Linked DNA regions of Homo sapiens. The protein of the gene in region 3 interacts with the protein of the main gene of each other region in a pairwise test. Each region holds a gene or a part of one and is shown on either strand. Other genes may lie near its edges. The genes, in order: TIGAR, RHEB, LAMP2, COL2A1, PCYT2, SPSB1 and C4orf33.

Evidence for each region.
Region 1: the proteins of LAMP2 (region 3) and TIGAR interact in binary tests that used the Homo sapiens proteins (3 or more experiments, as listed by UniProt).
Region 2: the proteins of LAMP2 (region 3) and RHEB interact in binary tests that used the Homo sapiens proteins (3 or more experiments, as listed by UniProt).
Region 4: the proteins of LAMP2 (region 3) and COL2A1 interact in binary tests that used the Homo sapiens proteins (3 or more experiments, as listed by UniProt).
Region 5: the proteins of LAMP2 (region 3) and PCYT2 interact in binary tests that used the Homo sapiens proteins (3 or more experiments, as listed by UniProt).
Region 6: the proteins of LAMP2 (region 3) and SPSB1 interact in binary tests that used the Homo sapiens proteins (3 or more experiments, as listed by UniProt).
Region 7: the proteins of LAMP2 (region 3) and C4orf33 interact in binary tests that used the Homo sapiens proteins (3 or more experiments, as listed by UniProt).

The regions. Positions count from the first base shown.
Region 1 is NC_000012.12:4,327,713-4,331,212, reverse strand, and holds part of TIGAR (fructose-2,6-bisphosphatase TIGAR), read right to left. Parts: intron 1-3,500.
Region 2 is NC_000007.14:151,474,896-151,478,395, forward strand, and holds part of RHEB (GTP-binding protein Rheb), read right to left. Parts: intron 2,521-3,500; coding exon 2,438-2,520; intron 1-2,437. UniProt on the Homo sapiens protein: Small GTPase that acts as an allosteric activator of the canonical mTORC1 complex, an evolutionarily conserved central nutrient sensor that stimulates anabolic reactions and macromolecule biosynthesis to promote cellular biomass generation and growth.
Region 3 is NC_000023.11:120,448,797-120,452,296, forward strand, and holds part of LAMP2 (lysosome-associated membrane glycoprotein 2 isoform A precursor), read right to left. Parts: intron 333-3,500; coding exon 174-332; intron 1-173. UniProt on the Homo sapiens protein: Lysosomal membrane glycoprotein which plays an important role in lysosome biogenesis, lysosomal pH regulation and autophagy.
Region 4 is NC_000012.12:47,987,477-47,990,976, forward strand, and holds part of COL2A1 (collagen alpha-1(II) chain isoform 1 precursor), read right to left. Parts: intron 2,330-3,500; coding exon 2,285-2,329; intron 1,806-2,284; coding exon 1,752-1,805; intron 234-1,751; coding exon 135-233; intron 1-134. UniProt on the Homo sapiens protein: Type II collagen is specific for cartilaginous tissues. It is essential for the normal embryonic development of the skeleton, for linear growth and for the ability of cartilage to resist compressive forces.
Region 5 is NC_000017.11:81,901,400-81,904,899, forward strand, and holds part of PCYT2 (ethanolamine-phosphate cytidylyltransferase), read right to left. Parts: coding exon 3,434-3,500; 3' UTR 1,350-3,433; coding exon of another isoform or gene 1,221-1,349; 3' UTR 1,128-1,220; coding exon of another isoform or gene 879-1,127; 3' UTR 1-878. Other genes in the region: NPB (neuropeptide B preproprotein), read left to right, coding at 879-1,127, 1,221-1,349. UniProt on the Homo sapiens protein: Ethanolamine-phosphate cytidylyltransferase that catalyzes the second step in the synthesis of phosphatidylethanolamine (PE) from ethanolamine via the CDP-ethanolamine pathway.
Region 6 is NC_000001.11:9,295,894-9,299,393, forward strand, and holds part of SPSB1 (SPRY domain-containing SOCS box protein 1), read left to right. Parts: intron 1-3,500. UniProt on the Homo sapiens protein: Substrate recognition component of a SCF-like ECS (Elongin BC-CUL2/5-SOCS-box protein) E3 ubiquitin-protein ligase complex which mediates the ubiquitination and subsequent proteasomal degradation of target proteins.
Region 7 is NC_000004.12:129,109,652-129,113,151, reverse strand, and holds part of C4orf33 (UPF0462 protein C4orf33), read right to left. Parts: coding exon 3,480-3,500; intron 3,162-3,479; coding exon of another isoform or gene 3,074-3,161; exon of another isoform or gene 3,022-3,073; coding exon of another isoform or gene 3,003-3,021; exon of another isoform or gene 2,810-3,002; intron 1,467-2,809; coding exon 1,361-1,466; 3' UTR 1-1,360.

The DNA.
Region 1 (3,500 bases), on a different chromosome or scaffold from region 3:
GAGCAATCAAGTGTGGTGATACTCTAAAAATATCATGTGAAACTTGTAACACACTTCATAATCCAACCTGTAAAAACAATTTATTCTAAACTAATATTTGCAATTGTCTTCTTTAATGAAGAGCTAAGAATTTCAAACTACTCCAAACTAAAACGTGTAGATCAGGAACCAATCTTAAGTGAATTGCAGGTGGAAAATCCTACTAAAAAATATAATGCAAATAACATTTCAGCCAAATAATTTTGTTAAAAGAAATATATTGATCAAAACTACTCTTACTGGCAGCAGGAACAAAAACGTGAGAGTCAGTCTATTCATTGCTGGACTGAATGAGCAAGTGAAAGAGAATCTGAATGGAATGGGAGAGACGTGCACAAACCTTCAGAACCCCCTGCCTTCTCTTAGTTCCTAGGTCTTCAGCAGTTATTTTTTGTAGTACTGACAGCTATCTCGCAGACCAACTAACTGCACACTGAACTGAGGTTTGAGTACTACACTTTTAAAAACTAAAATACCAAAACAAATCAAAGCAATCTGAACCAACCGGAAGGGTAAAAGAACTGGAAACTTTGTCAGAAAATAACTGGGGTTACTGAGGCTGGAGGGGGAAAAGGGCGGGAAGTGCATGGGCAAGACTGGACAGACAGCAGGATAGGTTAACAATAATGCAACTTTCAAATACATGAAAAGTAGAATCAAAGAGAATTCAGCTGAAATTTCTTTGAGCACTAATTAAATGTTTGCTGACCCAACCTACCACTAGAATTGCTGGGCCATAAGGTATGCAAATACCAGCTTTATTAGGTAATGCCAGTGTCATAGCAGGTTACACCACCCTGTAGTGTGGTGTACCACCCTCAACAAGATTCAGTGATGGAAGGTTTCTTCAATTTGTACCAATCTGGTACCTGAACAATTCATCTCACTTTAATTTTAATTTGCATTTCCTTGATTTCGATGGAAAATGATCGCTCCATTGTTTTTAAGTGAAGCACTAGTTTATAATAATTAAAATGTCACATAGGACTGATTTACTCAGATCTAGAAAAAAAAATCTACCAGACCTGGAAGTCAGAATCACAAACTCAGGCCTCATCCTGGAATCTTGCCGCTTGTTTACAAAAACAGCTGTATGCCAACCTCTGCCAAGATACAGATTGCTGGATTTGGCCAATATGAATGTTCTTTAAGACCCAACACAAGACTGGTTCTTTTAGGTAGTCTCCCTCCCCAGTACCATTCCCCATCTACCTACTCTATTTAATACCCACACTCTATACTCCCATGGTCCCCTGGCACTACCAACATAAGTTTTCATCTGTGTGCTAATTGACTTTTTAGCTCTGTGTCTATCCTGGCTCCAGTTCCTTAAAGGCACAAGCAGGGATTGCATACCCTCAACATGCCCAGGGCCTGGAGAAAATGCTGGGAAATGACAGAACTTCAGTGAATGTGCTTTTACCTAGGGAGGGTCATCTGGAAATACCTATCAAAATGACAAATCTGTTTACCCTTTTATCCAATAACCCAATTACTGGGAATAACTGAATTCACTCATATTTAAAAGATTATTTGTGGCCAGACGTGGTGGCTCATGCCCGTAATTCCAGCACATTGGGAGTCCGAGGTGGGTAGATCACGATGTCAGGAGTTCAAGCCCAGCATGGCCAAGATGATGAAACCCCATCTCTACTAAAAATACAAAATTTAGCCATGCGTGGTGGCGGGCGTCTGTAATCCCAGCTACTCGGGAGACTGAGGCACAAGAATTGTTTAAACCCGGGAGGCAGAGGTTGCAGTGAGCTGCAATCACACCACTGCACTCCAGTATGGGTGAGAGAGCAAGACCCTGTCTCACAAAAAAAAAAAAAAAAAAAAAAAAAAGATCATTAGCTACAGTATTATTTCTAATAGCAACAGATTATAAACAACCCAAATGTCCATAACTCATTCCTTAACTATGGCCAGAATAACCATTATTTATATTAACAAATAAACAGTGACATATCTACCTAATGGAATCCTATGTAAATGTGTCCTTTAAAGAGAGAGATTATATGTAAAGATATGGAATGCTCACCAAGATATATGATTAAGTAGAAAAAGCAGGGTATAGAGTAATATAAAAAGAAAGCTACCCTTTTAGAAAGGAGGGAAATAAACATCTGGATCTGCACAAAGAAACAATGGAAGGATAAACATGAAACTAATAAATGTGGCCACCTATTGGTTGGGGGAAGAATAGGAAGACTACGGAGAATTGTTTTGATTTCTAAATATGTAGATGTATTAGCTTAAAAAATAAACGTATGATAAAGAAATAAAATTACACAGAACTGGCCAGGCACGGTGGCTCACGCCTGTAATCCCAGCACTTTGGGAGGCCGAGGTGGGCAGATCACGAGGTCAGGAGTTCGGGACCAGCCTGGCCAACAAGGTGAAACTCCGTCTCTGATAAAAATACAAAAATCAGCCAGGCATGGTGGTGAGTGCCTGTAGTCCCAGCTACTCGGGAGGCTGAGGCAGAAGAATCGCTTGAACCTGGGAGGTGGAGGTTGCAGTGAGCCAAGATCATGCCACTGCACTTCAGCCTGGGCAACAGAGCAAGACTCTGTCTCCAAAAAAAAAAAAAAATACATGGAACTATTTATACCTTGGTAAAAAACCAACAGCACTGATTTGCCATTATCATTGTTGTTAATATTAATAAAAGATTACCTAGGCCACATGCAGTGGCTCATGCCTGTAATCCCAGCACTTTGGGAGGCCAAGGAGGGCAGATCACCTGAGGTCAGGAGTCCGAGACCATCCTGGCCAACATGGTAGAATCCTGTGTCTACTAAAAATACAAAAATTAGCCAGGCGTGGTGGCAGGCACCTGTAATCCCAGCTATTCGGGAGGCTGAGGCAGGAGAATGACTTGAACCCAGGAGGTGGAGGTTGCAGTGAGCCAAGATCATGCCATTGCACTCCAGCCTGGGCGACAAAAGCAAGACCTCATCTCAAAAAAAAAGATTTCCTACACTCCAAAATTCATTCAGAATCTTATAAAATGGGCATGAAAGAGGATATTAGCCTCTACCATTCAGATGGATAAAGCAGAAGCATTCAGGGCAAACATGGGGAACCTGTCATTTTTAATCTAGAAAATAGTTACCATGTATTGGATTCACTTCCTGTCTCAGCCTCAAAATCTTGCTGAGACCAAGAATAAAATATCTGTTATTTCAATATAAGTAACATCCTCGGCTGGGCGCGGTGGCTCATGCCTGTAATCCCAGCACTTTGGGAGGCCGAAGCAGGCGGATCATGAGGTCAGGAGTTTGAGACCAGCCTGGCCAATATGGTGAAACCCCGTCTCTACCAAAAATACAAAAATTAGCTGGGCGTGGTGGTGTGTGCCTGTAGTCCCAGCGACTCGGGAGGCTGAGGCAGAAGAATCGCTTGAACCCAGGAGGCGGAGGCTGCAGTGAGCCGAGATTGCGCCCTCAAAAACAAAA
Region 2 (3,500 bases), on a different chromosome or scaffold from region 3:
TATTTGTGTATTCAGCATATAGGTTTCTAAAAAACAAAACACCACTCTTCTCACACTCATGTTTGAGATTTGAGAATGCTCATTAAACTATGAGTTACTGAGGTAAAAGGCATATAACAAAAGAAAACACACCCATTTTAGTAAGGAGAAACTTGGTCAAAACTTGCAACAGTGCCACTGAGAAGACACAGTACCAAGCTTTTTGTCCTCTGCTTTGCACTAGGCCAGTGTTTTCTCAAATACATAAGGTCCTTGGTGAGCACACTTTCATATTTTTAATCCAGCTCAATGTATTTTTCAATTTCCCCAGTGGCACATGCTATGTTTTCAACTTGATTCTATAATGTCATCTAATTTGTGCACACCAAAAAAGAGACTTAAAAAAAATCAGTGGATGCACTAAGAAAATTTTCTACCTACTACTTTAATGCCTCAAAGTAACAATTTGTAAAGTAACACCAACACTGTTTTCTAAAAATCAGCTAGGATAAAATTGTACTTACCAACAACAAAACAATCTTTGAATCATGTTTTTCAAGTAAATTAGTAAAATAATGGAAATTCATAAACAAACATGAACTTCCAACATTCATTAGATTATTGGTACACTAAATTTGTTCTGGACAAGGCCTTACACGTGGCAGTATATACATTTTAAAAATATACAACTGAAATTAAAAAAATCTTTGTATAAAAATGGCCAATAGTTTTACTATTTAAAGTGCTCTTATAAGTCAGTAAGAAAATGATCATGTTTCCAAATACTAAGTACACAGTGGTTTTAAGCATAAAATCCAATCCAAGCATTGCTTTCAGTGACAATATAAATAAATACATTAAACAGGAAGAGAGATATCCATCTATCATTGAACATGAAATATTATAAAGCCATTTACTATTTCAAATACTAGGTAATATGGAAAAATATATATTACATGGTAAGTAAAAATATAAAAACATGGAAAATATAAACCATAAAACAGCATTCAGAGAGCAAATAAAAGGATGTTAAAACAATCCATGCAGACTAAAACAAAGACCAGAAAAAACATATACCAAGATATTAACAGTATCTATGCTTAGGTAATTAGATTAAGAATGATTACCCTCACTTTCTATTTTTCACAGTTCCTCAATTTTCCTTAAGGAACACATAATTCTGGTACTTGGTTTTGATTCAGGTGTAAACTTTCTCGGGGATTGACAGTATGGGGTCTGTTTATAAGAATGGCCGAGAATGGTACTCAAACATTTTATAGCTAGAACTCAACACCCTAAAGTATGTTTCTCTGCCACGGAGAAAAATGTTAAACAACACACTCACAGAGCAGCAGACTGAATTTTCACTGGCAGTGGAGTATGTGGGGGTAAGGAACCCAGACACTGGCCAACATGGCAGCCTCCAGCCACATGTGGCTACTGAGCACCTGAAATGGGGCTACTGTAACCGAGGGAGGCTTAATTTTCCATTTTTAGTTAAACAGCCACCTGCAGCACAGAGAGCAAACACTTCTATCACCGCAGTAAGTTCTATTGGACAGTGTCAGCCTTGACTGTGGAACTGGAGAGATGGCTATGAATCCCAGCAATGTCATTATGTAGCCCTGGGCAAGCTGCTTTAGGTCTCTGTCACTCAGTTTCTTTCCACGTAAAGTGGGATATAAAACATCTCTGATGAAGGATTAAGGTAATGATGAAATAAGTAATGTATCATATGTAGGCAAAGAGAGTAGCAAACTCCCTAACATGTCGCACACACTCAATAGATGCTACGTAGCCACCAAACGCCCTCCACTGGCACTGATATTTTCATAAAGTCTTCAAACATAAGCTGTCACCAATGCCCAGAGCTCCGCTGCTGTATACAGCCAGCTGTTCTGTTAACAGACACAGACCACTGCTCCTCCTGATAATACATGCCATCCCCCGATAAGAGGAGACATGAAATACGTAGCTAGAGGAACCGATATCCATTCTTATTAATAAAAATAGTGGCTTTGTTTTTATGTAGTAAAGTCAGACTCTATTACCAAAAGGTCTTATTTCATAAATTCAAAGGATAAGATATTGAACAAACCCAAACCCCCACATTTTATTAGAAAGTCTATTTCACCTTAATATGGTAAAAACACACACAAAGTAAAATTAATTTAGGCATTTCCCATTTCAATTAGCAGAAAAGCTTAGATCATGCTGAACCACTGTTTTTCTAGGTAGCTTGAGGTAAGAAAGAGCCTTTTATCCTATTGGTGTAACTAACAGAACATCTAGTGGGCCATGTTTCCCAGCAATCCAGTTGCTCCACGAGAAAATCACTAAAAAACATGTAGCCTAATAATTCTAATTGTCACTATTAATAATTCCAGCACAGTCCCTTAAAAGGATCAATGTTATCTATGAGTAGCAAATCAACTCAAGCAGGCAGCAGGAGTCTTACCTTTTGATTGATGTAACAGAATACACAAGAATATAGCCATTAATATCTATGGAGTATGTCTGAGGAAAGATAGAATATTCATCCTGTGGGGAAAAAAAATTATCTTTGAGTAGTCTTCATATAGCATCACAAACAAACTTTACCCAAAGTTTTTCATGTATTACCTGAAGAAATCAAAGTAGACGCAGAGTGGATTACAATATTATGCCAGAAACAGCCTACAAAGTGAAGCTTTAAGAATGGCCTGGAGGTGATAATGTGGTTCAAGCCAATATTTAAAAATGACTAGCTGTTCTAGAACTTTAGGGGAAAGTCTGATGACCTTCATAATTTCTGGGAGAAGAGGATGGATGGAACACAAAAATCATTGGCTCTGTGATCTCAAAACAAGGGATGAGCATCACTAACTCCAGAACCTTCTAGACCTCAGGACATTTATAAATCCTGCTGATTTATCCCATAAATCTGTATTTTTATATTTGAAACTGGCATATTATTTGATTTATTCTCTGCATGTCAGTCACAATGACCTGAGCTTCAGTCTACAGGTTGCTAGAGGGGTGCCATCAGCATCTGAAGGAGAGAGGGAGAGAGGGAGGGAGGTGGGGGAGAGAGAGAGAAACAGAGAAAGAGAAAAGAGGATCAAAACACCAGGTTCAATTGAGGTATTCAGACTTTTGGGGACCAAGAGAGTTATTTACTGAGCAACTCTAGGAATTAAAGAGAAAGGTACCTATTACGCAACAGCACAGTAGTCTTTAGTTTTATAAAGCAGCGTTATGACACTTTGCTTTATATACGTATTAAAGCATACAGAAAGTTCTGATGTCAGTGCAGTTTTCAACAGCACGCGCCACTGTCTGGTACGAACGTTTCATTCTTAGTTGAAACTAAATTGTCAACATAACACATGTCCTAAGCACTATTATGGAAAAATCACATCATGGTACCAGAAGATTAAGCAGCAGTCTATTATTTTTGTAAACTTATAGTATGGTTATAACCACTGTTTATGACAGCCCAGAATTACTGCCCTATGGTAAAGTTCTTTAAAGAAAAAAAA
Region 3 (3,500 bases):
TAAGATACACAAAAATAAGAATTGCTATTATTTACAAAAACTTTATAGCCTAGTAGAAGCTATGAATAAACCTTAATATATAAATGCTTTCAGATAATGACTTCAATGAAAGCTACCTGGTATACTCTACTCTTAAATTAGGATCCAAGTAGAGAAATATATACTTTACTCACCATTTGTGCTCACTGTGCCATTTTGGACAAAAGCTTGTACAAGAACATCCCAGTAGTGTTGGACAACATCATTCTTTTCCAAAGTTGATAAACTATTGCATCTAAAAAGGTCATTCAATGGAATTCTGATGGCCAAAAGTTCATCAACAGTAAGAATTCCTATAAAACAAGATTAACAATGGCTATTTCCAAGAAGGTAGGAGAAAAGTGATAATATAAATATATTTGTATAGGCTTTCTTCTTCTCTCTGCCTGCCCTACCCCAGGCACAAAGTGACAAAGGATATAGCATGCTTAAGGGCATGACTAGTTCACTGTGGCTAAAACATAAGGAGTAAGGGGGAAGAAGAAATGGGGGTTAGGGGCTGGGCACAGTGGCCCATGCCTGTAATCCCAGCACTTTGGGAGGCCGAGGTGGGTGGATCACCTGAGGTCAGGAGTTTGAGACCAGCCTGACCAACATGGTGAAACCTCGTCTCTACTAAAAAGATAATAATTAGCTGGGCATGGTGGCAGGTGCCTGTAATCCCAGTTACTTGGGAGGCTAAGGCAGGAGAATTGCTTGAACCCGGGAGGCGGAGGTTGCAGTGAGCCAAGATCGCCCACTGCACTACAGCCTGGATGACAAGAGCAAAACTCTGTCTCAAGAAAAAAAGAAAAAGAAAGAAAAAAGGAAAAGAAATGGGGGTTAAGAAGGAAAGACAAGTTGCAGGTGATCATACTTTGAAGCATCTTCTATGATCTAAGGCCTGTTTGGGCTTTTCTTTTTAGCAGTCGAGGGCTAGCCTCAGTTTTTAAAGCAGAAAATAACACATATATAATTTATTTTAAGGAAGATAGCAAATTTGTAGGGGATAAGCAGGGGGAAAAACTTTTCAGGGAAGCCACTTAAGAGGGAAACCAGAGGGTGATGGTCTGGTTAAGGTGAAGGGTAAGGGAGGGTTGCCTAAACTAAGATGGTGTGGGGCAGTAGAAAGAGAGCAAAGAAGCCAAACTGAAAACACTTATCTATGGTAGAATCATCAGGACTTAGTGACTATAACTAAAGAAGCAAGAGAGATGGATTAATCATACATTTGTATAGTAAATCCTTATTTTTGTTTTACTAGTCCCAAGTAAGTTATATTAACTCCAATGAGCTTATAGAACCGCTTCCTGGATTACATTTAAAGATGATTCCATTTCAGGGAATCTTCAGAGTATGAAAGCAGTAAGTTACAGCCATTTCATATAGTTTTTATTAGCCTGTGTATAGTGAAACTTCAAAAGACGATGATCACCCAAGTGGTTTGGCTTCTTTTGGAGAAGTAGCAAGAAAGGAAAGTATCCAAGGTCCTTAATATAGGCTGCCTTCTGTGCCTCTCCATCATGTAGCAAGCAGCCATATAATGCTGCCTTGGCACCCCCTAATGGCCATAGGAATTAAAAAACAAAACAAAACAAAAAACCAATGAACTAGAACATTTTTCCCAGAATTGCTTCTCACCGTTAACAAAAATGAATAGATACGTGACTGGCTGTATATAGATGGACTTCAAAAGCAAATCAGCAAAAAAACAACTTGCAGGCATATTGGAGTTATACTATGAATAGCTTTTTTTAAACTATGTATTGTTTATGAACACGTACTTATATAGTAAAAGACAAACATAAAGACAGGAAGGTTATACCCCAAATTTGTGAAAGTGTTTGCCTCTTAGCAGGCAAGAAGGAAAATGGGTCTGGGGAATGAAGACAAAGGAAATATCAACTGTATTGTCAACGTTTTATCTTTTTAATCAAAAAAGTAACACAAACATTAAAAAAACAGCATTTATTAATTCTGGATAATGGGTACATATGGGTCTGCTATATTATTCTCTGTATACATATATAATCTTTATAGATATATAATCTTTATATATATATATGTATATGTAGAGCCTTTTAAAAAACCCTTATTATATACGTAACTTATATATATATAATTTTTTTTTGAGATGGAGTCTTGCTCTGTTGCCCAGGTTGGAGTGCAGTGGCATGATATGAGCTCACTGCAACCTCCACCTCCTAGGTTCAAACGATTCTCATGCCTCAACCTCCCAAGTAGCTGGAATTACAGGTGCACGCCACCACGCCCAGCTAATTTTCGTATTTTTAGTAGAGATGGGGTTTCACCATGTTGGTCTCGAACTTCTGACCTCAGGTGATCTGCCTGCCTTGGCCTCCCAAAATGCTGGGATTACAGGCACGAGCCACCACACCTGGCCAGTACATTTCTATATTTTAATCACGAAAAAAATTTAAAAAAGAAAAAAGCAGCTTCAATGTTACTTCAGTTATCAGATGCCTAAAAATAAATTAGTAGTTTTTTATTTTTATTTTTTGAGACAGAATGTCGCTATGTTGCCCAGGCTAGTCTCACACTCCTGAGCTCAAGCGATCTGCCTGGCCTTCCAAAGTGTTGGGATTACAGGCGTTGAGTCACTGCACCTGGCCTAAATTAGTTTTTTTTGTTGTTGTTGGGGGTGGGTAAGGAAGGGTCTCCCTCTGTTGCCCAGGCTAGAGTGCAGTGGCGTAATCTTGGCTCACCGCAACCTCCGCCTCCCAGGTTAAAGCGATTCTCCTGCTTTAGCCTCCTGAGTAGCTGGGATTACAGGCACGCACCACTACCACCCGGCTAATTTTTGTATTTTTAGTAGAGACAGGGTTTCACCATGTTGGCCAGGCTGGTCTCAATCTCCTGACCTCCAATGATCCACCAGCCTCAGCCTCCCAAAGTGCTGGGATTACAGGTGTGAGCCACTGCGCCCAGCCATAAATTAGTATTCTTGAAACACTGAACTATATCAAAAACAATTATTAATAGTCCATTTCAGGAAGCCATTTAACATTCCAAATAGTTTCAAATATTATTATATAGAAGGTAGTAATTTAAAAAGTAATCCTCCCTTTGTTTTAAATAAAAGGGGAAAGAGAGAAGTGTTAACATTTCAGGGTCCATAGTTTTTCTATCCAAATATGTCAGATTAAACACCTCCTCCTAATAACTGCTAACAACTGATGCCCCTGTAGTCCAGGCATTTATTACATCAGCCCTTGATTACTATAACAGCTTCTTAAGCCAGCATCTCTGCTTGTAGCCTCCTCACTTCTCAACTAATCCTGCAGAATATTCTTTATAAGCTACTGTCTCTGCTTTTGTTATATCATTCTCCTGCTTTAAAAACCTAAAATGATTCCCCAGTGCCTGCCCCATCAAGCTAAATGTCTTTCCTTGGCTTCCAAGGCCCCCTATAATTTAGGCCCACTTCATTTAGCCAACTTTATTTTCCTTCTGCTACACAC
Region 4 (3,500 bases), on a different chromosome or scaffold from region 3:
AGGTGGGGACAGGCATTGGGCCAGAATGAAGGTTTGGTGGTTGGAGCCCACAACTGTCAGAGCAAAGTACAGAGTCAAGAGTTCCAAAGCCACAGACCCCAGACCCCCCCAGGCCAAAGAGAAGCTGCACTTACGGAGGCACCAGCAGGCCCAGGGGACCCAGGAGTACCAGGTTCACCGCGAGGACCTTGAGCACCTTCAGGACCACGGGCACCAGTGGGGCCGGCTTCACCCTGGGAAGAGACAGGGAGGATGAAATGAAGAAGAAGAGAGGGGACACAGACCTCTAGTGGGTGGGCAATAGCTCAGGGCCAGCTGCAAGCACAGCACTAAATTATGCACATGCACCCAACCCTGCACATGAACATGTGCGTTCACACACAGTTCACGCTGCCGTTTTTCTCCCTGCCTGACCGAGCTGATGACTTGATGACTTCCCACGCCTGCCTCCTCTACTGCTTACCTCATCTCTACACAGTGAGCCTCCACATGCCACGGCACAGCTACATACTACAGCAATGGGCAACCTGCTGTTCCATCGACACCATCAGAAAAGCGTGGGCTGGGGACCCTGCCATCCTGGCACCGTGGGATGATGGACGGACACCGCTCTCTCCCCCACCTCCTGTTTTTCTATTTTATTGAGGAGCTGAGGTCCCTTCTAAGTCTCTGAACATCCCAGCTCAGAGCACCACCTCACTCCCATCTGGCTGACGGGTGAACAGTGACACCCTGGCTCCGGCCCCAGTCTGTTCTCAGTAAGCCAGAAAGCCAAGGCAAAAGCACATGGGGACTCTGCCCCTCCCTGCTCTCAATACAGCCCAATTCCCCTTAGCGGGCGCCTCTGGCAAGCCCCCTCCCCACAAAATGGCTTGTGCTTTTACTTTCATTTTTTCCTGAAAATTACAACCCACTCTAGATGGCAGAGTCCCTGGGGAGGGCTGCTGACCTGGAGAGAGGGCAGAGCCTCCTCAGGTTTCTTCTCAGAACATTCCTGCTTCACTGTGGTAATTATTATTTTCAAAAGGTCAGCCCCCCTCACCTTCCGCTGTCCCTCTTCACAATGGGTCTCCTTCACCCGGCTCCGGGACCTCAGACACTGTCTGGTTGCCATGGAAACCCCCAGGAGGGGAAAAGCAACCTGATGCCAGTGACACATGGAGGCTCCTTATTCATTCCCAGGGACGTTCACACTGGAATCCTTCCTGGGCTGCGAGGCCTGTCCCTGAACTGGCTGGCCTCCCACTGGCCTCTAGTAATCCTCCAGAGAACTCCGTTAACATGGTTTGGAAGAGCCAGGCACCCCAAATAAAGCAGAAACCCAGAGGGGAGCAGGGGCTCCCTGCCTGTGCCCTTTTCCCTGCCCAGTTCCCTCCAGTGCCCGTCAGGGCCCCGAGCTTGCTCAGCTGTTGGGTCTCCCCTAGGTTTGCTTCCCTGTGCTGCCACTCCTGGCCTTCTGCCCCTGCCAGGCCTATGGTGTATCCCCGTCTTCTTCTCTGTCCACCTTTCCCCACTCCAAAGTTGTAACTGGATCTCCCACATTTTATCTTCTGTCTTACTTTCCCTCCAGGTGAGACTGCGAGTGTCTGGCTTTTTGCCCTGCCTGGATGGAGGGGCCAGTGGGTGGGGTGGTGGGGAGCTACTTCTCAGAAGGGAGCAGGTGGTTGTTGAGGGAGCAATGAGCAAGGGTTACGGGGAAAGGACAGCTTCTCGGCACCCAGAAGTTCCTGACTGGACAACAGGGCACGTACCTTGGCTCCAGGAGCACCAGGGAAGCCAGGACCACCAGCAGGACCGACAGGACCCTGGAGAGAGTAGGCGGATGAGAAGAGAGGTGAATGCCAGTTCTGGCCTCCAAAGCGAGCCACCCCGACACCTCACACTCCTTCCCTCCTCTGTACTGATTTCACTCCATATCCATTGTGGCTAAAAGGCCTTGGATGAAAATTGTCCCCATTGCCAGCGTCCCCAGGAAACTTTGCCTGGCTTCAGAAGGCAAAGCAAGTTTCTGACTACATCTGTGGTGAGAAGCAGAAACTCCTTTGACCTCCCTCCTCTAAAAAGACTGCTGAAAGGATGGCTGAGGAAAATGAGCCCATGCTTCAAAGCTTGTTATCGATATGCTCAATTGATATTTACAAACTTCTTCTCTTTCCTCCCCCTTTCCAGTAGACATCAGAGTGCTGCTGTGGTTGCACCCAATACACCCTGCAGACTGCCTTGGGCTGCTTAACGGGACTTAAAGCACAGCAACAATGACCTGCTGAGGATGAAATGAACTTACCGGAGGCCCTGCGGGGCCTGGCTGACCATCGTTGCCTCGGGCACCCTGTGAGCAAGAAGGAAGTGACCATGAGAGGTGCCCACAGGCCCTGTCCGTCCCTGCTCCCAGCCCACCCTTACAGAAAACGAAGGACACACTGTGCCTGGGGTGTCCCAGGGCAGAGCACGAGGATGGCGAGGTGTGGGCTGCAGTTTTGGTGTCTGTGCGAGTGGGTGGCCAGAAGGCAGTAATGGGCTTCTTCTAATCTTTTTTTGTTGTTGTTTTTGAGACGGAGTCTGGCTCTGTCGCCAGGCTGGAGTGCAGTGGTGCGGTCTTGGCTCACTACAACCTCCACCTCTCAAGTTCAAGCAATTCTGCCTCAGCCTCCTGAGTAACTGGGATTACAGGCATGTGTCACCACACCTGGCTATTTTTTTTATTGTTATTTTTAGTAGAGACTGGGTTTTGCTATGTTGGCCAGGCTGGTCTGGAACTCCTGACCTCAGGTGATCCACCCGCCTCAGGCTCCCAAGGTGCTGGGATTACAGGCGTGAGCCACCGCACCTGGCCCCTAATCTTAAACAAAGCTTAAATCATTTTCTCTTTTCTTCAACTTCAGTTCAGACCCCAAATATCCGTAACTTCAAGGCCAAGTGATCATTTAAAGACTGAGAGAATTGAGTGTAAGGAAATGAAACAGCGAGGCAACCATGTGGACTCAGTGCTTCCTGCCTGCTCAGGGGGAAGCGCTTTCAAGGCTTGGTTAACCTCTGTGGTTAAGGCTTGGTTAAGGCCTCCTCTTGGTTGACTCCAGGTTGCCTCTTCCTCTGGCCCATCCCCAGACAGCCTGCTCTTACGGAAAACAAAGATGCCCATAGGATGTCTACCATTGGCTCCCTGATGGGGCAGGGCACCAGCCACAGCTCAAACACTACATCTGAGCTCAAGCCCTAAGAGGCTTTTGCTTACAAAGCAAGGCAAGGTTGCCAGCTCCTTCTCTAGGACTGGACTTGGAGGGGGAGGGTTTTTTCTGCCAAGTTTGTGGTGGCACCCCTCAAATGCTCTCTCAAGGTTCCTTAAGGCCCAGGGAACTCTTTACCGAAACTCTGGGGGCCACAGGCTGGGTGGAGCTGGGCCTAGGGCCTGACTGAGCAGGTCAGGGGGGTACCTTTTCCTGCTGAGTCCTGCCTGTCAGTCTCTGCCTCTCCTTAGAAGCTAAAGAAGGATGCTTTAGGGG
Region 5 (3,500 bases), on a different chromosome or scaffold from region 3:
TGACAATACTTTGCATCCTTCAATCCAGTCAAGCTGACACTCAGCATTCACCATCACACCTGGGAAGCATGGAACCCAGAAACAAGTGCCAGGGCTCCAGTGCCAGTGCCTGTCCTGGGAAGATACCCAAGAGAAGACATGACCAGGACCTTGGGGGAGCATGAAATGGTGAGGGCACAGTGAGCTTGAAGGCTGATGTCACCTGCCAGGAGAGCGGCTGGCAGTCCTGCCTGGTGCCCCCCAAGGGGCAGAGCTGGCAGAGAGGGGCCTCCAATCGAAGGCCAGGAGTCGTGGAGCTCCAGTGCCTTGGTGTGGCTGGCCTTCTTGCCCCCCTCCCAGAGGACCCCGCCAGTAACAGCCCTGCTGGTGGAACCTTCCCCAGTGGGCATGAAAGAAATGAGGGCCCCACAAGCCACATGGACTCTGATGCCTGGAGCCAAGAATACCCCTTAGGGTGGTAGAAACCGCCCCCGGGGCACTGTGCAGTGTGGCTGGCTCTCCAGCATCAGGAGTACTGGGGATTGCCTGGGGGACGACTCCTAGGGCTGGGCGCCCGTGGGCCCTCCCCTGCTGCCACTGCGGCCCACGCAAGCCGGGCCTGAAGGGCGCGAGCGGCATGGGTGGGGAGCTTGAGGGGGCGTTGGGCTCCCACCAAGCGCCAGATCCTTGCGCGCCTCCAGCGCTCGCCCGCGCGGCTGGTTCCTTTGGGATGCGGAGGTGCGACGGCTCCTCCGCGCGCGCCCGCTGCACCCCAGCCCGCCCGCCGCCCCTCCCGGCCCTCCGCAGCCTCGGCCCGCCCTCGCCGCAGATATAAGGCGGCCCAGGCGGTGGCTGCTCCGAGCCCGGACGCCGCCGCCCACCAGTCAGCCGGCGTCCCCATGGCCCGGTCCGCGACACTGGCGGCCGCCGCCCTGGCGCTGTGCCTGCTGCTGGCGCCGCCTGGCCTCGCGTGGTACAAGCCAGCGGCGGGGCACAGCTCCTACTCGGTGGGCCGCGCCGCGGGGCTGCTGTCCGGCCTCCGCAGGTCCCCGTACGCGCGGCGCTCCCAGCCCTACAGAGGGGCGGAACCCCCGGGCGGGGCCGGCGCCTCCCCGGAGCTGCAACTGCACCCCAGGCTGCGGAGCCTCGTGAGTCCGGCGTGCCGGGGACTGATGGGGGGCGGCGGCAGGACGTGGGTGGGGGTGCGGCGGCCCCTCAGCCTTTGCTTGCCTGCCCCCCAGGCTGTGTGCGTCCAGGACGTCGCCCCAAACCTGCAGAGGTGCGAGCGGCTCCCCGACGGCCGCGGGACCTACCAGTGCAAGGCGAACGTCTTCCTGTCCCTGCGCGCAGCCGACTGCCTCGCCGCCTGAGCCCGGACCTCTCCTGGCACCGCTGGGGGCCCCCCGCCCCCACCGTCCCACTCGGTGACCCCAGGCCCCTCCGGCGCGGGATGGCGCCCCAGGTCTCCCCTACTCCGCTCACCCCGCAGTTAATGGCAAACGAATAAATAAATGAGGCGGCCTCGGAGTGAGGGGTGCTGGAGGACTGGCAGCCAGGCCACGAGGGGAACGGGACCTGGAAATCCCCAAGCCTGGGTATGAGAAGGCAGCCGAGTGTGCGGCGGCAGGGCAAGGTTGGCCTGGGCCGCCCAGAGGTCTTCAGACCCAGGGGCGAAGCTGGCCACGACCCAGCCCCGCGGTGAAGCCGCGCCTAGCCTTGGTGCTCCCTGGGGGAAGTGCAGGGCCACGGCTGGCCCGGTTCCCAGTGTCCTCCCCCAGCCCTTCGCTCCCCAACTCGAGAGCCAAATCTGTGAGGGCATGGGCTGGAGCCCCTGGCTGCCTTCCTCTTGCCCCCATCCCTTCTGGCCAGGCCAAGTCCGAGGGTGCAGGGGCAAGGAGGAGAGTTGGGGGCCTGAGCCCTGGCTCCAGAGGCCCAGAGCATGCCTCCCCAGAGCTGAAGGTGGGAGATGGGTAGGTTCTCCCTCCGCCGTTGGGTGTGACTCCGGAACTGGCTTGGGCTCTGGCCTCCAATGCTGCTACGGGGCCAGGCCCACCTCCGGGCCCAGGCAGCAGCACTGCAGGGCCTTTCTACCCTCCCCAAGCCTGGGGCCCAGGCAGCCCCTGTCCAGCACCAATCTGTCTATGGGGAACTGGCTGGTCCCTCTGCTCAGGGGACCCCGCAGTCCAGGGTTCTGAGTGGGAGCATTGGCACCACCCCACTCCTGAAAGCGGGGGCCTGGCAGGATGAGGATGGCCTGTGCCCCCCACACCTTGGCCCCTGGCTCGGAGAGCAGGGTGACAGGCTGCCTTCCTGGGCTGTGGAGAGCCTCGCGTGCACCTCGCCTCCAGCTCCTGTGCTGGGTCGTGAGGTCGACCTCACAACAGCAGAGGACAGGCCCATGGGGTGCCACATGGGCCAGGTGCTGTAGGGCAGAGGCCATTCTGGAGAGGAATGTGGGGCTGAAAAAAGTACTGATCATAAGCCTCATTTTGAATGCGGCGAGACCAGGCAATCTATGGCCTCCCTAGACACCTCCCGGAGGCTGCAGTAAGAACCTCTTCGGCCTCTGGGCTGCTCCAGGCGGGCCGTGACAGGGGTGTGGGAGACAGAGATCCCATGGCCCCTGGAGGGGCCAAGGGGCAAGGAGCCTCAGCTCTGGCTCTCCTCCTTATTCTAGCATCGCCTGCTACAGGGGGTGGCCCCAGGCTTTGGAGGGCTGGAGGCCTGGGTTTCACTCACTGCCAGGCTGCCCGCTGCACTCCCGGCTGCTGGGTGCATGGTGGGGGCAGGGCCAAGAGGGTCTCCTTGCTGAGTGGTTCCCTGGTCCTTCCCAGCAGGGCTGGGAGCCCCGCGCAGCACTGCCACCAGGCTTTATTCGGTTGTACCAAAGAGATTTCCGTCAGCCATGTACAAACAGAACAGAGTCCATAAGGAGAGTGGCGAAGCTGCCGGGAAGGAAGGCAAGCGTGTTTTCCTGGAGCCAGGCGCTGGGTGGCAGGACACCGTGTTGGGGGGTGCCCAGTGGGAGGTGGTGTGGTCTACACCCAGAGAACTAAAGGGGTGACCGCAGTCACTGCTCCCTAAAGCCCTCTGCTCTGCACCTCCCGCCACAGCTGGGTGGGCAGTCAGTGTGGCCTCTGTCCAGGTGGTGGGGGCATCCGGGGACCAGGTGGGGGCGCACGCAGGAGCGGTGCGTTTCAGGCTGCAGGTGCCGTCTGCCCGTCTCACTTCCGGCCTCTCCACTGTGCTGGACACCCTCTCTGAGCAGCTTTGCTGGAAAGAGCGGAGAGCCTGCTGCAAACCAGGCACCTTGTAGGCAGGCAAGGAGGCAGAGTCCTCACCAGCCCTTCCAGAGCCAGGCCAGTTAGAGAGGGCGGCCCTGCAGAGTCCTATGTCCAAACGCAGAAGGCGCAGAAGCAGAGCAGGGGGAGGGCCGGCCAGGGCCTCTGCCAGGTTAGAAGTCACCATCGCGCTCCCCCAGGGGCTGTGCCGCCTGCTGCCTGGCAGCCTCCAGGAAGGCC
Region 6 (3,500 bases), on a different chromosome or scaffold from region 3:
TCAGACGACAGCACAAGGTCAGGTACAGGTGTGCCTCAGTCTGCCCAGGGGTGTGTTATCCTCTCCCCAGCCCTCAACACTAGATCAGTGAAATCCAGACTCTAAGGGACTTCGATTTTGGACTTTCAGTGAGTGCTCTCCCCTCCCCCAGTTATCTGATAACATCTCCCCCAGTCTAAAGTTCCACTGGCAGCCAGGTGCCCGGCTCTGTGCTACAGAGTGCTTTATGGACGTGACTTTGTTTGAATCCTAAGCATAATAATAGCGGGAAATGGTTTCATGGTTTCACGGTGCGTGCGAGTACTGGCTCTGATCTGAGTCCTTGACGCATTGACTCATGGGCTTCCTGAGGACCCTGAGAAGTGGGTTTTGCCTCCATGTCCATTCTGCTGAGGATTGCAGGTAACTTGGCTAAGGTCTCGCGGCAAGGGAATGGTGGAGCCAAAACTCGAATCCAGACTTGGCACCCAAGCCCTTCACCAGTAAGTTTGTCACCTCCACCACCTGAGCCTTTTCTTCAAGAAGCATGGGCTCATTTTTTTAGTGAAATTTTTTGTTATTATGGAAAATGTCAAACACACCAAAGTTAGAGGCAGAGTATAATGAGCGATCAGGTTTCCTCACCTCGCATGCACACACATACACATACTCACATATGCACATGCATACTTATGCTCACAGAAGATGTGCACATGTGTACACACACATACATATGCACACACATATATGCACACATACACACACACGCTGGATTATTTTGAAGCAAATACAAGATGTCAGGTCATCTGTAGCTTCTTCCTAAGAAGCATTTAAAGGAAGCATCACATCTCAAAGAGGTTGACTGTTACTCTATGCGGGGCAAGAGTCGGGAGATGTACGTCCTTTCTGACTTGGGCTTGAGGCTCCTTCCTTGCTTGGACAAAGGGAGGATGGCAAAACCCAACAGCACATTGGGGGATCTGTCCTGCTGCCAACCCCCTGAAACCTTTGGGAAGCTGCCTGTTTGCTTTGTGTTTTAAAAGTTCTGTTCATTGCCCAACGTTAAAAATAAATGAGTCCAGTGGTCATGAGACAGACCACATCAACAACAGGCTTAGGCTCTCGGGGCCTTTCTTGGAGATGGGGAAGAGAATCCGCCAAGGCACAGCCCAGCCTTGCCTGCCATTGAGGTCCAGACCTTGTGCAATGCAGGCATGGGATTTGTGGCAGGGCTGGGTGTCAGGAGATGTGACTGTGAGAATGGTTTGTCAACAAGCTCTGAATCTGACCTGAAGCTTAGCCTGACCCTCTTGAGTTTACTGCGTAGGCGATGGGTGGAGGAATCCAAGAACCTCTGCCACCCTTGGGCGTCTCTTGGAAAACTAGGGAGGCATTGGGTGATTTGAGCACAAGATGAAGAAAATATCAGGATGCAAACTCCACACTTGAGAAATGACTGCTGAGTAGGAATATAGGATTCCAGGGTTGGAAAAACCTACCTGTGACAAGGGCTTGACGGGTGCCCCAGTTGTGAACACACCTTGCCAGACAGTCAGAGTGTGGCCAATCTGGTCACACCCTTTCCAAGGTCAGAGTGAGGAGCTGCACTCCACACCAAGAGAACCACTTGAGTTTTCTAATTTATACAAGCAGACACCAAGGGAGCATGTGTGGGAGTGGATATTAGGATGTGGAACGAACATGAAGTTGGATCTGGCCGAATTTATGGATATGGGCCCACTAAGCGGAGATTCTGCACTTGATGTTGTAGCTCAGGGGGTTAAGAAGAGATCTGTTTGGTTGGCTGACTGGAACATGGATCAAAGGATGACCCACTGTGAGTAAGTTGGAGTTTCTGGGTCTCCTTTGGTTTAATGTAGAGTTAGGGATTCATAGGCTTAGGTTTCATGTAGAGTTAGGGATTCAAAGGCTTAGGGACATTGGAATGCTGGAGTGGATTTGTCTCTTAAAAGCTACTCACCCACACTGGGAAGGTTCAGAAGACAGATCTTTCACGCATACGTTGAGAAATAGATTTGTGAGGGGGCCCCAGCATCCCTGAAGAGCTCCGTGATCCAGCCCTTACAGTGGGAGCCGCAGTCACTCAAATGGAAAACTTAAATGCAACGGGAGTAATTGCATTTGGAGTGCAGCGGCCAAGTGGCAGTACTCAGCCATCCAAGGCAAGGTGAGTGTGGTTACCTAATGGACGGCAGAGGCAAAGCTGCCGTCAGAATAGTCTGACTTGTGTGGATCTATGGCATTGGATAGTTAATCATGGTGTTCCTAGAAGTGAAATAGACAGGAAACCCGTGAAATTCTTACTTGATCTTATAAGTTACTTGATTCTTTTAAGTTTTCTGTATAAGCAGAAACTTACAGGTCAAATGAAAAAAAGTCTAACTTGAATAATTAAAACAGAAAAATAATTAAAACAGAAAATCACAGCCCTCAATCAACTTCCCAGACTTAACCCAGTTTACACAACTAAGCCCCCATGAATGAATGAATGAGTGAATGAATGAATGAGTGAACGAATGAATGAATAAGTGAACGAATGAATGAATAAGTGAATGAATAAGTGAATGAATGAATGAATGAATTGGAAGCTGGATCCCTTTGAAGAAGGACCTCAGTACACTAGAGAAAGTTTATGCTATTAATTTTTCTCCTAGCCTTCCCCAAAGGGACCTGTGACCTTTTACCAGAGTGAATATGTATTGAGGAAAGGGAAATAATTAGATTGTTCGGGGATAACTGGTTACTGAACTGATACTGATTCCAGGAAACCAAAAATATCACTCACTGTGGCCCACTAGTCAGAGAAGGGGCTTATGGAGGTCAGGTGATCAATGGAGTTTTAGCTTAGGTTTGACTCCTGGTGGCTCCCGTGGATCCCTGAACCCATCCTGGGGTTATTTCCTGGTTCCAGATTCAAAGTTGACATACTTAGCACCTGGCAGAATCCACACACTGGTTCCCTGCCTTGTGCGGTGAGGGCTGTTATGGTGGGAAAGGCCAAGTGGAAACCATTAGCGTTGCCTCTGCCTGGGAAAATAGTACATCAAAAGCAACATTGCATCCCTGGGGTGGGGCTGCCGAGATTAGCACCACCATCAAGGACTTGGAGGAGGCGGGGGTGGTGACCCCCACCACATCCCCATTCAACTCTCCGATTTGGCCTGTGCAGAAGACAGATGGACTTTAGAAACTGATAGTGGATTATTGTAAACTTAACCAAGTGGTGACTGCAAAATTCACACATCTCTGGTCCCTGCTACTGCATGCAGCTGTTGATCTGACGAATGCCCTTCTCTTTATACCTGTCCATAAGGCCCAGCAGAAGCAGTTTGCATCCAGCTGGTAAGGCCGGCAATGCCCCTTGGCGGTCTGGGCTGATGGGTATATCAGCTCTCCAGCCCTATGTCACAGTTTAGTTCACAGTCATCTTGATCACCTTTCCCTTCCACAGATATCATACTGGGGCTGGGCACGGTGGCTCACTCCTGTAATCCTAGCAC
Region 7 (3,500 bases), on a different chromosome or scaffold from region 3:
GTGCTTCATTTTTATCCATATTATAAATAGTTATGATTTATATCTGAAACTGTGATTCACAGTGTTCGATTCGCTTCTAAAATCAAGATGCTCTAAAATATATCTTGTTTTTATTTTGATAGTTTTATATGCATTTATAAAATTATTCAGGTAATTTATAAATAAATCGTCCTAGGTTATTTAAAATATGCCATTCGTATCTAAAACAGGCAGATCGTTTCTATATCAAATTAATTAGTTGCTATTGTCAGTTTTAAGAATAATTTCTCAATTTATCTAAGATGCCTAACACTGCCACCATGATGTGTAGTCAGGATACTTAATAATACCTTTTGTAAAAGTTAGCATTTATCTTACACCAGCTCTCTTTTTAGATAGAGAACATATATAAGAAATGAGTAAGTCGATAAGCCACATTTAACCATCACTAGTGATTGTTCAATGGAAACATATAAACTCAATGTAAACTTGAAGTTAATTCCATTTAATTTACAGCTTATTTTATAATAGTATTTTATTAAGGAATTAATTTACATATAGTAAAATCACAAATCTAAACATACAGCATGAGGAATGTTGACAAATATATGCAGCTACATAACCATCATCCAGATCAAAATACAAAACATTTCAATCACCCCGGAAAATTTCCTCAGGCCCCTTTTCCATTCAATTTGAATTCCCTGCCCTCACTCTAAGCAGCCACTGTTCTGGTATCTATCATCAAATATTAGTTTTGCCTGGAAGTGGCTTTAATATAAAAGTAATTAGATAGTATGTTATGTTTGGTTTGTTTTGCTCAACTTAATGTTTTTGAGATTCATACAGGTTGTTGCATGTATCAGCAGTCCTTTTTTAAATGAACAGTATTCCACTGACTATATTGTAGTTTGTCTATCCATTTTCCTATGGATGGAAATTTCACTGTTTACAATTTTGTGCTATTATGAATAAAGCTGCTATGAGCAGTCATTTTTCTGGGGTATATATCTAGGAATGAAATGGTTGAATCACAAGGTAGTGCAAGACAGTCCTCTAGGTGGCCTTGGACAACCTCAATTGTTCCCCCTTTTTCACTTGTAGTTTTCAAGAATAACTGTACTGTGTGCTGGGAATGCAACATCCTGGACTAAGTGACTCTGAGAAACATTGTGACTTTACAGATGAAATCATCTACAAAGAATCATATATTTTCTTGTTAATCATATACAATTTGCCACAGATACTATATTTTCAGTGACTTCTATGAAGATATTTGTTGTTGAAATGTATGCATGACATCTTAAAAAATTGATATTTATTTTTTGTTTATCTTAAAAGGTATAGAGGAAAAAATGATCGGTATGGTTATCTATTACTCCTATATATCACATTTCTCTATTAGCCACAGGTCTGATTCCGGTTGTTTCCACTCTTCTCCAAGCAGTGTGTTAAAATTGAAAGACTTGAAGTATTCTAGGCAATGGCTAAAAGCAAAGAAAAAGAAGGTGGGAATTGAAATGAATTATGCATTTGTGAAATAGTTGTCCTGAAGGGCTATTTATTTTGTCACAACTGTAATACAACATTCTATTTTAAGCAATACTAAAGGTAAGATATATTTTATATGTACAGTTTTCTCACTCTAGCTGTCAAACACTCAGCTCTGAAAACATTCACCTGCATCTCAAAGCACTCTTCTTTCAATTCTGCAAATAACTCCCTCACAGCTGAAGGGAGAAATCAGTTCTCAAAACATAACTCATTCCATCCAGCTTTAAACAAATCATATTATGCTCTTGCATATGTTTTTATATTCAAACTTTGATATAATTTATATCAGTCATATAAGCAATTGTTTTGAAAAGTTTCAGTTCCATTGATAAGATAGACTTCTTAATTCCCTTCTCTGCTGAAGCAAGAGAGGTTAATGTAAAAGAGTATTAATCCCAGTTCTTTTCTTTCGAGGAAAACCACTTAACTACATTAAGAAGCTTTCTCTTGTGGCTTAATGAGGAGAGAAAGGCTTAGCTAACATGCTGCAGTGGAGCCCCACTCTGTAGGAAGTCACTCTGCCTTGGCTCTGTCCTGGCCAATGTATAATCGTACTTCCACCTAAGATAAGCTTCCAAATAATGTATGAATGAAGAGCCTGAATATAGGAAGGTATTAGCTGATGAAGAGCCAGAGAGACATGACGTCTTGATATGAGGACCTTGAGTCAGTTGCAACTACATGTTTGTCTCATTCTGCCCACCTGGCCAGGATAAGTCAGTTTTTGAATCACAATTGTCAATCCCAGAGTAAGAGATTAAGGAAAAAACAGTGAAGGATAAGAAAAAGGAAGGGGAAAAAAGACTAGGTAAAAGCTATGTCAGGATTGGGGAGAAAGGCAAAGGGAAAAGGGGAAAAAATATCAAGCAAAATAAAGAAATATGCTAGAAGTGATAAAGACAAAGAAGCATAAAGTAAGAGCATGGCAGGAAGGAGAAGGCAAACAGGGAGAGGAAGGACGATGCAGCACATTCCACAGGTTAAAAGGCAGGAATGTCCATCTACCATAGTGCAATGCTCACTAGGATGTTTCTGTTAGGTTCTTCCAAATGCCCAGACTCACGAGACTACCTTGGCCATAGTGAGTATACCTAGAGAGATATAGAGCAGCAATCACAGCTTGCCCCAGGACAGCATCTGGCTTTCCTCCCTAAAGGAGTAGTCCTTGCAGAAGTCCATGAAGCATTCATAAGGCTGGCCAGGAGCTCTAGTCTGCCTATGTGAGAGCTACAGGTGCAAGGAAACAAGACTCAAATTGAGAAAGCATAGCAGATAACTTGGCTCAAATGCCTGCTGCCCCATGAGAGCAATATCTCTTGGAATAACTCCATAGCCATAGCTTCCAGGGTTCCCACAGGGAACATGACTGTTACAGGGGAATCCCAAAGCCATGCTGTCTCCATCATATATTTATAGTTCATCCAAAATTATTCTCAGTCCAGATGTAATTTGCCACTTAAGGGTCATTTTTATCGTAAGCAGTGTTGCCTAGAAACATAGTTGATATTTTTATCCTTATGAGGTTACCAGAAGAGGAGAACTAGAGAGATAACTGAAGATTAGATTTCCTTGTAACAGGGGACTGTTTGTTCACACCAGGAAACACTGATGCCTCTGGCCCTTTAGCTCTGAAAGAAATTTTAAATGAATTTGTGACCATACTTCTATATCAGCTATTACAACATTTACTTTTCTCACATGCAAACAACACTTTTCTCATACCACTATGGAAAAATAAGTGCTCTACTGACAGTAGTGAGAGAGATTATGACAGTCCAAAGTTTTCCAAGTATTTTCTGAGGACCATCAGTGAACATTGGACTCTACTAGATACTTGTGCACATATGTCGTCTTCTTTGATCAAAAGTGTTACTTCTGCTCCACTAAGAATTAATTTCGAAAAAACTCGTGTATTTGGAACATATCTTCATTTATTTTCTACTTACAAATCAGGTTTTTGTCCTTGC